2 separate regions of the Homo sapiens genome follow, and region 2 is linked to region 1. The links come from fine-mapping of genetic effects on gene expression. A gene starts in region 1. The other region holds a variant in brackets. All regions are shown on one strand. Distances are from middle to middle.

The links. PIP is the estimated chance that this variant, and not a neighbour inherited with it, causes the effect. A credible set is the group of variants that fine-mapping cannot tell apart.
Region 2: its variant is the best candidate, but not a certain one, in a credible set for the expression of TMEM225B in T cells (TOPMed, PIP 0.75).

Annotation. Positions count from the first base shown.
Region 1 is chr7:99,595,749-99,601,141 of GRCh38, reverse strand. TMEM225B (transmembrane protein 225B) reads right to left here and starts at 2,875. Exons shown (of 6, transcript NM_001195541.3): 1 at 2,761-2,875; 2 at 857-937.
Region 2 is chr7:99,571,635-99,577,027 of GRCh38, reverse strand. ZNF655 (zinc finger protein 655) reads right to left here. Exons shown (of 3, transcript NM_138494.3): 3 at 575-4,783. The coding sequence ends at 3,444. Among named protein-coding and RNA genes, the nearest start is that of ZNF655, 16 kb to the right of the region's middle. The variant G/A (reference allele first, on the strand shown) is at 3,202.

The DNA.
Region 1 (5,393 bases):
GGCTGCATCTTGATCCTGTCCTCTGTATAGATGGGAGTACACTGGGCATTCTCATTTGATAGGGGGCACCTCTTCCTGTCTACCCCATCTCCACCTGTATGTGACTAGAAGTGATCTCTGTCTCCTTTATTTTCTACCTTTTTTTCTCTCCTTCACCCAAACCCTAGCCTTGAGCTCATGCTGGTTCTTCCCTCTCCCCAACCCCACTTCCATCTCATCAGCCTTCCTCATCTTCTCAGTTTTCCCTTCATAAAGTTCCCCAACCTTCCAACCTTCCTGTCCCCACGCCTGCCACGTCTCCCTCCACACCTGGAACATCACCGTCATCCCCAGGCTCCTCTGGCCTCTGTACCTGGTGATTTGGTTTGGCTGTGTCCCCACCCAAATCTCACCTTGCATTGTAATAATCCCCATGTGTCAAGAGCAGGGCCAGGTGGAGATAATTGAATCACGGGGGCAGTTTCCCCCATACGGTTCTCGTGGTAGTGAATAAGTCTCACAAGATCTGATGGTTTTATAAGTGGAAGTTCCCCTGCTCAAGCTCTCTCCTGCCAGCCACCATGAAAGATGTGACTCTGCTCTTCATTCGCCTTCAGCCATGATTGTGAGGCCTCTGCAGCCATGTGGTGCGAGTCAATTAAACCTATTTCCTTTATAAGTTACCCAGTCTTGGGTATGTCTTTATTAGCAGCATGAGAACAGACTAATACACCTGGGTTCCTTCCTGGGGGCGGGGGTGCCTGTTCTGCTCCCCAGATTTTCCAAACCCCACTCCCCTGAAAAGTGCAGCTTGGTGCTGTCCACTCCACGCAGCCCTCCCAGCCACTCCCTCAGCAAAAATTCACTGTGCACTTACAGGTCGCCCCACTCCCAATGTAGGCCAATGGTGGGGATTCAGAGATGAAAAAAGGCAGGAACTCAGAGGCTCTTGGAACTGCTAGGGAGAGAGACACAGAAACACATCATGTGATGCAGTGCTTTTGTCTTCACAGCCCGGGGTTACTTTGGGGCCAGGTATACCCCAGGGCACTACCCCTTATCTGTCCCATTCCCACTGCCCCCTCCACTCTCCAGTGATGAGGACCTTGTCCTCCTTTCCCTGGGCACCAGTCCAGGTCCCTCCCTGAAGCAGCCCTTAGTGCCAGCACTGGACAAGGTTACATCTTCGGATACACAACTTCAGATCCGCACGGATATAGGCCAGACTGAAAGGTCATAGATATTTGAATATAAGAGGGGATTGGTAGATCCTTTTGTACAGAAGCAGAGATGGAGAGCTGGAGAGAGGGAATGACTGGTGGAGGATTCCACAGCCCATCAGTGCTGGCACAGGGACCAGAATACTGCATCACTGCCAGGACAGTCTCACCAGCCACCAATGGCCGGCAGTTCAATTCAGTGATTCCCAAATCTGGAATTCTGTGGATCCAGAGAATGCTTTCTTATAGGCATGTGCATGTGTGAGAAAGAGAGAGAGAATGGGGGAATATACGACTGCCAACTTTTTATTTTGCCAAGAGCATTAAAAACAAAGCAACTTATCTACTGTCACTGGTTTGGTTTTTATTCAAATTTTTGTTGTTGTTCTTTTTTGAGACAGGGTCTTGTGTCACCCAGGCTGGAGTGCAGTGGTGCATTCATGCCTCCTGGGCACAAGCGATCCTCCTGCCTCAGCCTCCCGAGTAGCTGGGACTACAGGTGTATGCCATTACACCTGGCTAATTTTTTTTTTGAGATGGGGTCTTGCTATGTTGCCCAGGCAACCCCTGGGCTCAAGTGATCCTCCCACCTTTACCTCCCAAAGTGCTGAAATTACAGGCATGAGGCCCCACGTCTGGCCAAATTATTATTTTTTAAAGGACCCATGGGCCGGGTGCGGTGGCTCACGCCTGTAATCCCAGCACTTTGGGAGGCCGAGGCAGGTGGATCACGAGATCAGGAGATCGAGACCATCCTAGCTAACACGGTGAAACCCCGTCTCTACTAAAAATACAAAAAAAAAAAAAAAAAAAAAAATTAGCCAGGCGTGGTGGGGGCGCCTGTAGTCCCAGCTACTCAGGAGGCTGAGGCAGGAGAATGGCGTGAACCCGGGAGGCGGAGCTTGCAGTGAGGCGAGATCGTGCCACTGCACTCCAGCCTGGGCGACACAGCCACAGCGAGACTCCGTCTCAAAAAACAGAAAGGACCCATAACACCAGGAGGTAAGAAAAGCTGTGTACCCCGTGGTGGTGCCTGGACCAGCGTCTGAGGACCACTGGCTTGGCAGGAGGTTCCTGGACCCTAGGCCCCCTTCAGCGCCTGAGCTGCAGCCCCGCACCTCCCAGGCCCTGGCACTTAACAGGAAAGTCGGCAGCTGCTCTGGGGATGAAGGAAGTGGGCGACCTGAAGGGCATCCTGGTTTGGAATGGGAAAGAGACCTTCCCTTCCCACTGTTTCCTCCGGTCATTTGTGGCAACTTGGACTGCACATTGACCCAGGGTAGGGTCAGAGGTTCCTTCCCGTTGACAACCGTCCTCGGCCCTTTCCCCTGAATGCCAGGACTCCGCCCTTCTGTGGCCCCAAAGCCATAGGGATATTTTCAAGACCCCAAGCTGGGCCCTAACCAGGCCATCCGCCCCCAGCCCCTGCCCCGGGCGTCCCACAGCCAGTTAGGCGATGTTCGGCCTTGGGTGGGTAGGGGGACTTCCCCACATCCTCTCCCAACCTGTGGGGCCACCTTGCTCTCCCCCATACTGGTCTCCCCTCTACCCTTCCCTCCACCTGCGGCACCGTCGTAGGCGGTTTCGCGTCCCAGAGCTGGGCTGCCCTCCAGGCGGGTCACGGTGGGACCCTCGCCCTCCACTCCAGGCTCCACCGCGCTCCTGGAGCTTCCGTTGGCCCCAGAGGCCCCGGCGGGGGGTTGCCCCGACCCGGGGGAGGAGCCCACTGAGCCTGGGCCTCTGAGCGGAGCTCCAGCTCCAGCTCTGCGGAGGAGACGCGGGCTCACCTCCCTACCTGCCGCCCCGGCCACCGCAAACCTGGCGGGTGGAGGGTGGGGAAACCAGGCCCTGGCGTCTGCCCACAGTACCGGCTTCGCTCACGGGTGTGTGGGGGCGGAGGAACAGAGAGCGGGAGGGATCTGAATTCAAATCCTAGCTCTGCCATTACCAGCGTGGGGACTTTGAATAAATTTCCTGTGTCTCCTTCCTGGGTCCTGGGCTTCTAATCTGTAAAATGGGAATAATAATAGTATTAATAATATGGTGTTAATAGTATTAACACTATTATATTAATGATATACTATTAACACTATTATATTAGTAATATAGTGTTGAGTGTTAACACTTATATTAATAATATAGCGTTAATAGCATTAACACTATTGTATTAATAATATAGGGTTACTATTAACACTGCTATATTAATAATACATGATTAACACTATTAATCATATAATAGTGTTAACACTATAATATTAACAATATAATATAGTGTTAACACTATTATAGTGTTAACACATATTATATTAATAACACTATTATATTAATAATAATTGTTAATAATATAGTGTTAACAGTATTATAATTATATTAATAATTAATAACACTCGTATATTAATATTATAATTAATAATAATAAAGTGTTAATAGTATTAACACTATTATATTAATGATAATAGTGTTAACACTATTAATAATGTAATAGTATCTACACTATAATAATAATATAGTGTTTCATAATATAGTGTTAGGCCGGGCGCGGTGGCTCACGCCTGTAATCCCAGTCCTTTGGGAGGCCAAGGCAGGCGGATCACGAGGTCAGAAGATCGAGACCATCCTGTCTAACACGGTGAAACCCCGTCTCTACTAAAAAATACAAAAAATTAGCCGGGCGTGGTGGGGGCGCCTGTAGTCCCAGTTACTCGGGAGACTGAGGCAGGAGAATGGTGTGAACCTGGGAGGCGGAGCTTGCAGTGAGCAGAGATGGCACCACTGCACTCCAGCCTGGGCGACAGAGCAAGACTCTGTCTCAAATAATAATAATAATATAGTGTTAACACTATTATATTAATAATATAGTGCTAACACCATTATATTAATAATATAGTGTTAATAGTATTAACATTATTATATTAATAATATAGTGTTAACACATATTAGTAATGTAGTGTTAACACTATCATATTAAAAATATAGTGTTAGTAGTATTAACTCTCATATTAATAACAGTGTTAACACTATTATATTACTAATATAGTGTCAATAGTATTAACATTATTATATTAATAGTAGCACACTGTGATATTACTAATATCTGTAATGTTAATGATATTCAGTGTTAGCACACTGTGGTATTACTAACATCTATGATATTCATAGTATTCAGTGTTAGCACACTGTGATATTACTAATATTTGTGACATTAATAATATCCAGCGTTAGCACACTGTTAACACACTGTGATATTACTAATATCTATATTATCTATCATATTAGTGATATCCAGTGTTAGCACACTGTATTAACACACTGTGATATTACTAATATCTGTGATATTAATAATATCCAGTGTTAGCACACTGTGCTATTACCAATATTTGTGACATTAATAATTTCCAATGTTGGCACACTGCAATGTTAATAATATCTATGATACTAAAAATATCCAGTGTTAGCACCCTGTGTTGTGTTAATAATGTCTATGATATTAATAATATCAAGTGTTAGCACCCTGTGATGTGTTAATAATAATATGATATTAATAAAATCTAGTATTAGCACCCTGTGACTTGCTAATAATAATATCCAGTGTTTGCACCCTGTGTTGTGTTAATATCAATGATATTAATAATATCCAGTGTTAGCACACCGTGATAATAATATCCAGTGTTAACACAGTGTTAGCACATTGTGATATTAATAATTTATATGATATTCATAATATCCAGTGTTAGCACACTGTGTTAGCAAAATGTGATATTAATATCTATGATCTTCATAGTGTCCAGTGTTAGCACACTGTGATATTAATATTATCTATGATATTCATAATATCCAGTGTTTGTTAGCACACTGTGTTATCATACCATATTATTCATAATATCCATGATATTAATGCTGATATCCAGTGTTAACACACTATGTTAACACACTGTGATACTATTCATAGTATCTGTGATATTATTACTAACACACATTAGATATTAATACTAATATCCAGTGTTAACACACTGTTATATTACTCAGAATATTCATGATATTACTACTAATGTCCAGTGTTAACACACTGTGATATTTTTCATGATATCACTAATATCCAGTGTTGACACACTGTGTTAACACACTGTGATATTATTCCTAATATCCACAATATTACTACTGATATCCACTGTTGTTAACACACGGTGATATTAT
Region 2 (5,393 bases), 24 kb after region 1:
TATGGCTGGGCACAGCGGCTCACGCCTGTAATCCCAGCACTTTGGGAGGCTGAGGCAGGCAGATTACCTGAGGTCAGGAGTTTGAGACCAGCCTGGCCAACACAGTGAAACCCGGTCTCTACTAAAAATACAAAAATCAGCCAGGCAAGGTGGCAGGTGCCTGTAATCCCAGCTACTTGGGAGGCTGACACAAGACAATCGTTTGAACCCAGGAGGCGGAGGTTGCAGTGAGCCGAGATCACGCTACTGCACTCCAGCCTGGGTGACAGAACGAGACTGTCTCAAAAAACAAACAAACAAACAAAAAGTTATTCCTAGTTCTACTGAAACCTCGAACTATTTAGTCTTATTTTATATACCAACAACTTCCCAATCAAATCCCCTTTAAGTCCCAAACATTCAGCTTTTGTTCCAGAGGTCTGTGGAAAAGCAAGCTTTGTTATCAATGCAAAGGAAAGTGATCCATTCTTGCTGTGAAGCAAGTTCCAGGGAGGAAAGGAGTTGCAGCCAGAGATGTGATTCCAACATTCCCAAACGCTTCTGTCTGAGACCTTCAGATTTTGTTTGAAACAAATTCTCAGAATACCAAACACACCTTTATTCAAGTGGAAGTACAAAAGCACATTCCTAAACCAAACGCATACATGTGATTTTTACATATTCTGCTTTTTAGGGATTACATAATCCTGTTTCAGTCACCATACGTGACTACTGGTCTCTATACATAAGGGTATACATGTTTGACAGGAAAAAACACATGCATTTTTCATTTGCTTTTACATTTAGATCAATTCATTTATATATCAATTTCATTTAGATTCCTACCTTGCCTTGATGAAATCCTACTCTTGCTGATGGCAAAGAAGTAAAATATAGTGGCAGAACTATCCTAGAGGTTAGCCATAGGAGGATTATAGAGTGAGCAACATATTTTTATATATTTGTTGAGGGTCCCTACTGAATATTATAACACTGAACTATGAAAGCCTCAATTGCTGGACTGACAACAAGAATTTTAAATAACATTTGTCTTACTCACAAAATGTTATAAAGCTTAAGATGGAAAAATACAAAATGTTTTGACATTACCTAAAGAATCATGAACTCTTGTTAGGTATATGATGGTGGCCCTGAACTTGAGCCAACATCTGTAATCACTTTTATCAGTCAAAAAGCCATGTTCTTTTATATAGCCTGTAGACTATTAAAATACAAAAATGTGGTAATGGATAAACAACTATACACAAAGCCCTCACACTTCAAATACTGTCCTGGATTGATGAGAGAGGAGCAGAATTCAAACATTTATCTGCAATCCTAATGGTTAAAATTTTACCAGGAACAGACCTGCCACTCTCTTGAAATACTGTCTCTGAGATTAACATACGAACAGCATCATCTCTGTTGGAAGGCTACATTCCCTTATGATGCTGATTTGTGTGTGTGTGTGTGTGTGTATGGTTTTTTGTTTTTGTTTTTTTGTGTTTTTTTGAGAGAGAGTCCTGCTCTGTCGCCCAGGCTGGAGTGCAGTGGTGCAATCTCGGCTCACTGCAACCTCCGCCTCCCAGGTTCAAGCAGTTCTCCTGCCTCAGCCTCCTGAGTAGCTGGGATTACAGGCGCGTGCCACCACACCCGGCTAACTTTTGTATTTTTAGTAGAGACGGGGTTTCACCATGTTGGCCAGGATGGTCTCGACTGCCTGACCTCGTGATCCATCCGCCTCAGCCTCCCAAAGTGCTGGGATTACAGGTGTGAGCCACCATGCCCGGCCTGTGTATCTTCTTTATGTTTACCCTACCAAGAGCAGACCTGAGCATTTTGCTGGCCGTAGAGGTATATAAAAGAACTCTAAGCTTAGGCATGCAGAATAGGCACTGGATGAATGTAGTGAGGCTATTAGGAGTCTTGTTGGCTCCCTGATGTCCTTATCATGTCTTCTTCGCAGACTGTGGATGCACACAAGACAGCTAAAACCTTGGGCATCATTTGAAAATGTTTGGCTGCCTGCTACAATCTCAGGAGAGAGAATCCTTCATACTTATATTGGACTGGATATATTGTCAATCAAATTCTTTTTTAAAAAAAGATGCTTCACTTTAGGAAATAAGACACCAGACCAGCAACATCAAGTAGGTATGGAATACTTGCTGGTGAAACACTTAAAACTAGGAAACTTCTAAATCTTCTAAAGGTGCTTAAGAGAATGGAGAAGTTAATCAACAGGAATCCAAGTGTTGTGGCTGTAAAGCAATACGACATAAGATCCCTAGTAAAGAGCAGGCCTAAGAGTTGGTTTTGGAAAGAACTTGGGCCAAGAACAGCAGAAAAAGCTAAATGAGCTACTTACGTCGATGTGTTTTAATACTGGTGCATTAGCAGTATCTTATGGAAGTTGTGAACACTAAGAACCAATTTCAAAAAATATAAAAATGTTTATAGGGCATATTAAAATAAAAACAGCTTAAATGAGTTCTATAAATAAAATAGGCCCAGCACAGTGACACACGCCTGTAACCCCAGCACTTTGGGAGGACAGGTGGGAGGATCGCTTGAGGCCAGGAGTTCAAGACCAGCCTGGGCAACAAAGCAAGACCCCATCTCTGTTCTTTTTAATATCAAAATTATAATAAAAAAGTAAAAATAAACGTACCTACTTAGAATACATATTAAATAAAGGAACTCCATGAGAAAATGTCACTGCATTTACCAAGTCAACCCTAGATTTTTGTGCAATGAAAAAGATTGGGACTATGTATTAACAATTTCATAAACAAATAATCAACAATTTTCTCTCCATTATTTCGATGTTGGGTAAAGCCTGAAATGTGGTGTCGAGTTTTTCCATTTGCGTTACATCAAATTCTTGTCTACTATGGATATTCTGATATGACAAAGACTAGTTAAACTCCTATTGAAAGATCTGCCATTTACTACACCCAAATAAGTTCTCTTAGGTATAAATTCTTTGATGTTGAATGAGCGTTGGGTTATGACTGAATCTCCTCACACACATACATGCTTATTACATTTATAATCTTTTTGCATGGCGTGAATTTGATACTAAACAAGGTAGTTTCTTTGACTGATGGCTTTTTCACATTCATTGCAGCAATGGAATTTTATTCCCATGTGAATTCTCCAAATGTGACTAAGGTATGAAAATACTAATAGCATGAAAAATTTGCCACATTCAATACATTT[G/A]TAAGATTTCTCACTGGTATAGATTTGCAGGAGTCGATTAAGAGTTTAACACTAATACCTTTTCTTCATTCGTCACATTCAGAGGGTTTCTCTCTGGTGTGAATTATCTGATGCTGAGCAATGGCTGAGCTATGACTGAAGGCTTTACCACATGCAGTACATACATGATTTCTCCCTGGTGTGAACTCTCAGATGCTGAATGAAGCCTGAATTTGATAAATATCTTCCCATCTTCATTACATTCATGAGTTCTCTTTGGTATGAATGCTCTGATGTTGAACTAGATGTGCTCTCTGACTGGAGTTCTTTTCCCATACATCACAATCAAAGGCTTTCTGTCTGGTGAGGACTTCTTGTTGCAGGATAAGATCTGAGCTATGACTGAAACTGCCCTCATACTCATTACATTCATACGATTTCTCTTTCCTATGCATTTTGTGATGCTGAATAAGGCATGAGGTTTGACTGAAAGCTTTTCCACATTCATTACATTCATGTGCTTTCTCTCCTGTGTGAATTCTTTGATGCTGAATAAGATGTGAATTCAATCTGAAGTCTTTTCCACATTCACTACACGTATAGGGCTTTTCTCTGAAATGAATTCCTTGTTGTTTAATATAGGCCAACCCATATTCATCATACTCATAGGCTTTCTCTTCATGATGGACCCTCTGATGTTCAAGTAGGTATGAAGTATGGCAGAAGTCACTGCCACATACAGTACACTTACAGGGCATCTCTTTGTGAATTTTCTGATGTTGAGTAAGGTGGACACTACGACTGAAGACTCTTTCACAACTGCTACATTTGTAAGATTTGGCTCTGGTGTGAATTTTCTTATGCTGAATTATGCCTGAGCTTGGACTACAGGATTTATCAGACGCTTCACAGGATTTATCAGATGCTTCACATTTGTAAGGTTTTTCTCTAGTGTGTATTCTTTTATGTCGACTAAGACTTGAGCTCTGACTGAAAGACTTTTCACATTCTTTACATTTGTAGGGCTTCTCTCTAGTATGGATTCTCTGATGTCTAGTAAGGGCTGAGCTCTGATGGAAAATTTTCCCACATACATCACATTTATAGGATTTCTCAGTGTTAGGGATGCTCTCCCATTTATTAAGGTGGGAGAGATCCATTAAGCTTTCCTTACATTCACTACTCTGAAAATCCTCTGTTAGATTTAAGTGTTCATGTTTACCAGAGGCTGAATTCTGGTTGAAGCTCATGTCATACTTATCATTGTCATCGGTATTCTGTATTCTAAGAACTCTCTGATCTGCATCAATAGTAGAGTCCAGACTGAAGCTTTTTTCGGGTTCATGACATTCATTGTTCTTCTCACTGGTGAAGGTTTCCTTGCTGATTGTTATTTGCCTAAACTCTCTCTCCAGGTACAGAAATTTCCTTAGAATTTCCTGAAGTCTTTCTAATCTGTCCTCAGACTTATACACTTCTCTAGTCTCAGGAACTTGGGTAATATCGTGTTTGAGTCTTCCTACTCTCACTTTGTATGAATGCACTTCTTCCGAAATTTTCTGCTTAGGAATCAACAGCTTGTTCTCTTCTCTGGTCTCTCCATCTGATACAATATATAAATAGAAAATGCAAATGTAATCTGTACCCTGTGCTTAGGAAAAGAAAACTCAGATGAGAAAACTAAACAATGTAGTATCTACAAGGACAAGAAAAGTTTATTTACTCTGAAAAACAGGCACAAAATCTCAACAGCAGAAGTTAAGGGCATAAACAGGAGCAGTGAGGTAAAACAGCGGACATGTTCAGCAGAGTAAGGAAATAATAGGGAAACAGCTGAAAGAATTTTAGATAAGCAACTTGATTGGGGTCTAGTACGACATGTGCACGGATACTAAACAAATGGAAAGGGTCAACCTAACTGAAGGGAAAAGGAAGGAACTCTCCATGCTAGGACACACACAGAGCTCTTCATTCTGAGTGCCAAAGCAGCTACAACTTGGCTCAACAATTGAACTTTACTTCCCTACTAATTCTATCTGATTCTGCCTTACTCACCTGAGCAGTCATCTCTTAAGACTTCTCTAGTCTTAGTTTCCAGATCAAAGACCTGTAGATCCTGTTCCAGCTGGGAGATCCCATCAGGCTTGGAAATTGGAAATCCTGCTCATAGAGAAGGAAATGGGATGTGGCAATGTATCCCCAGGTCCTACATC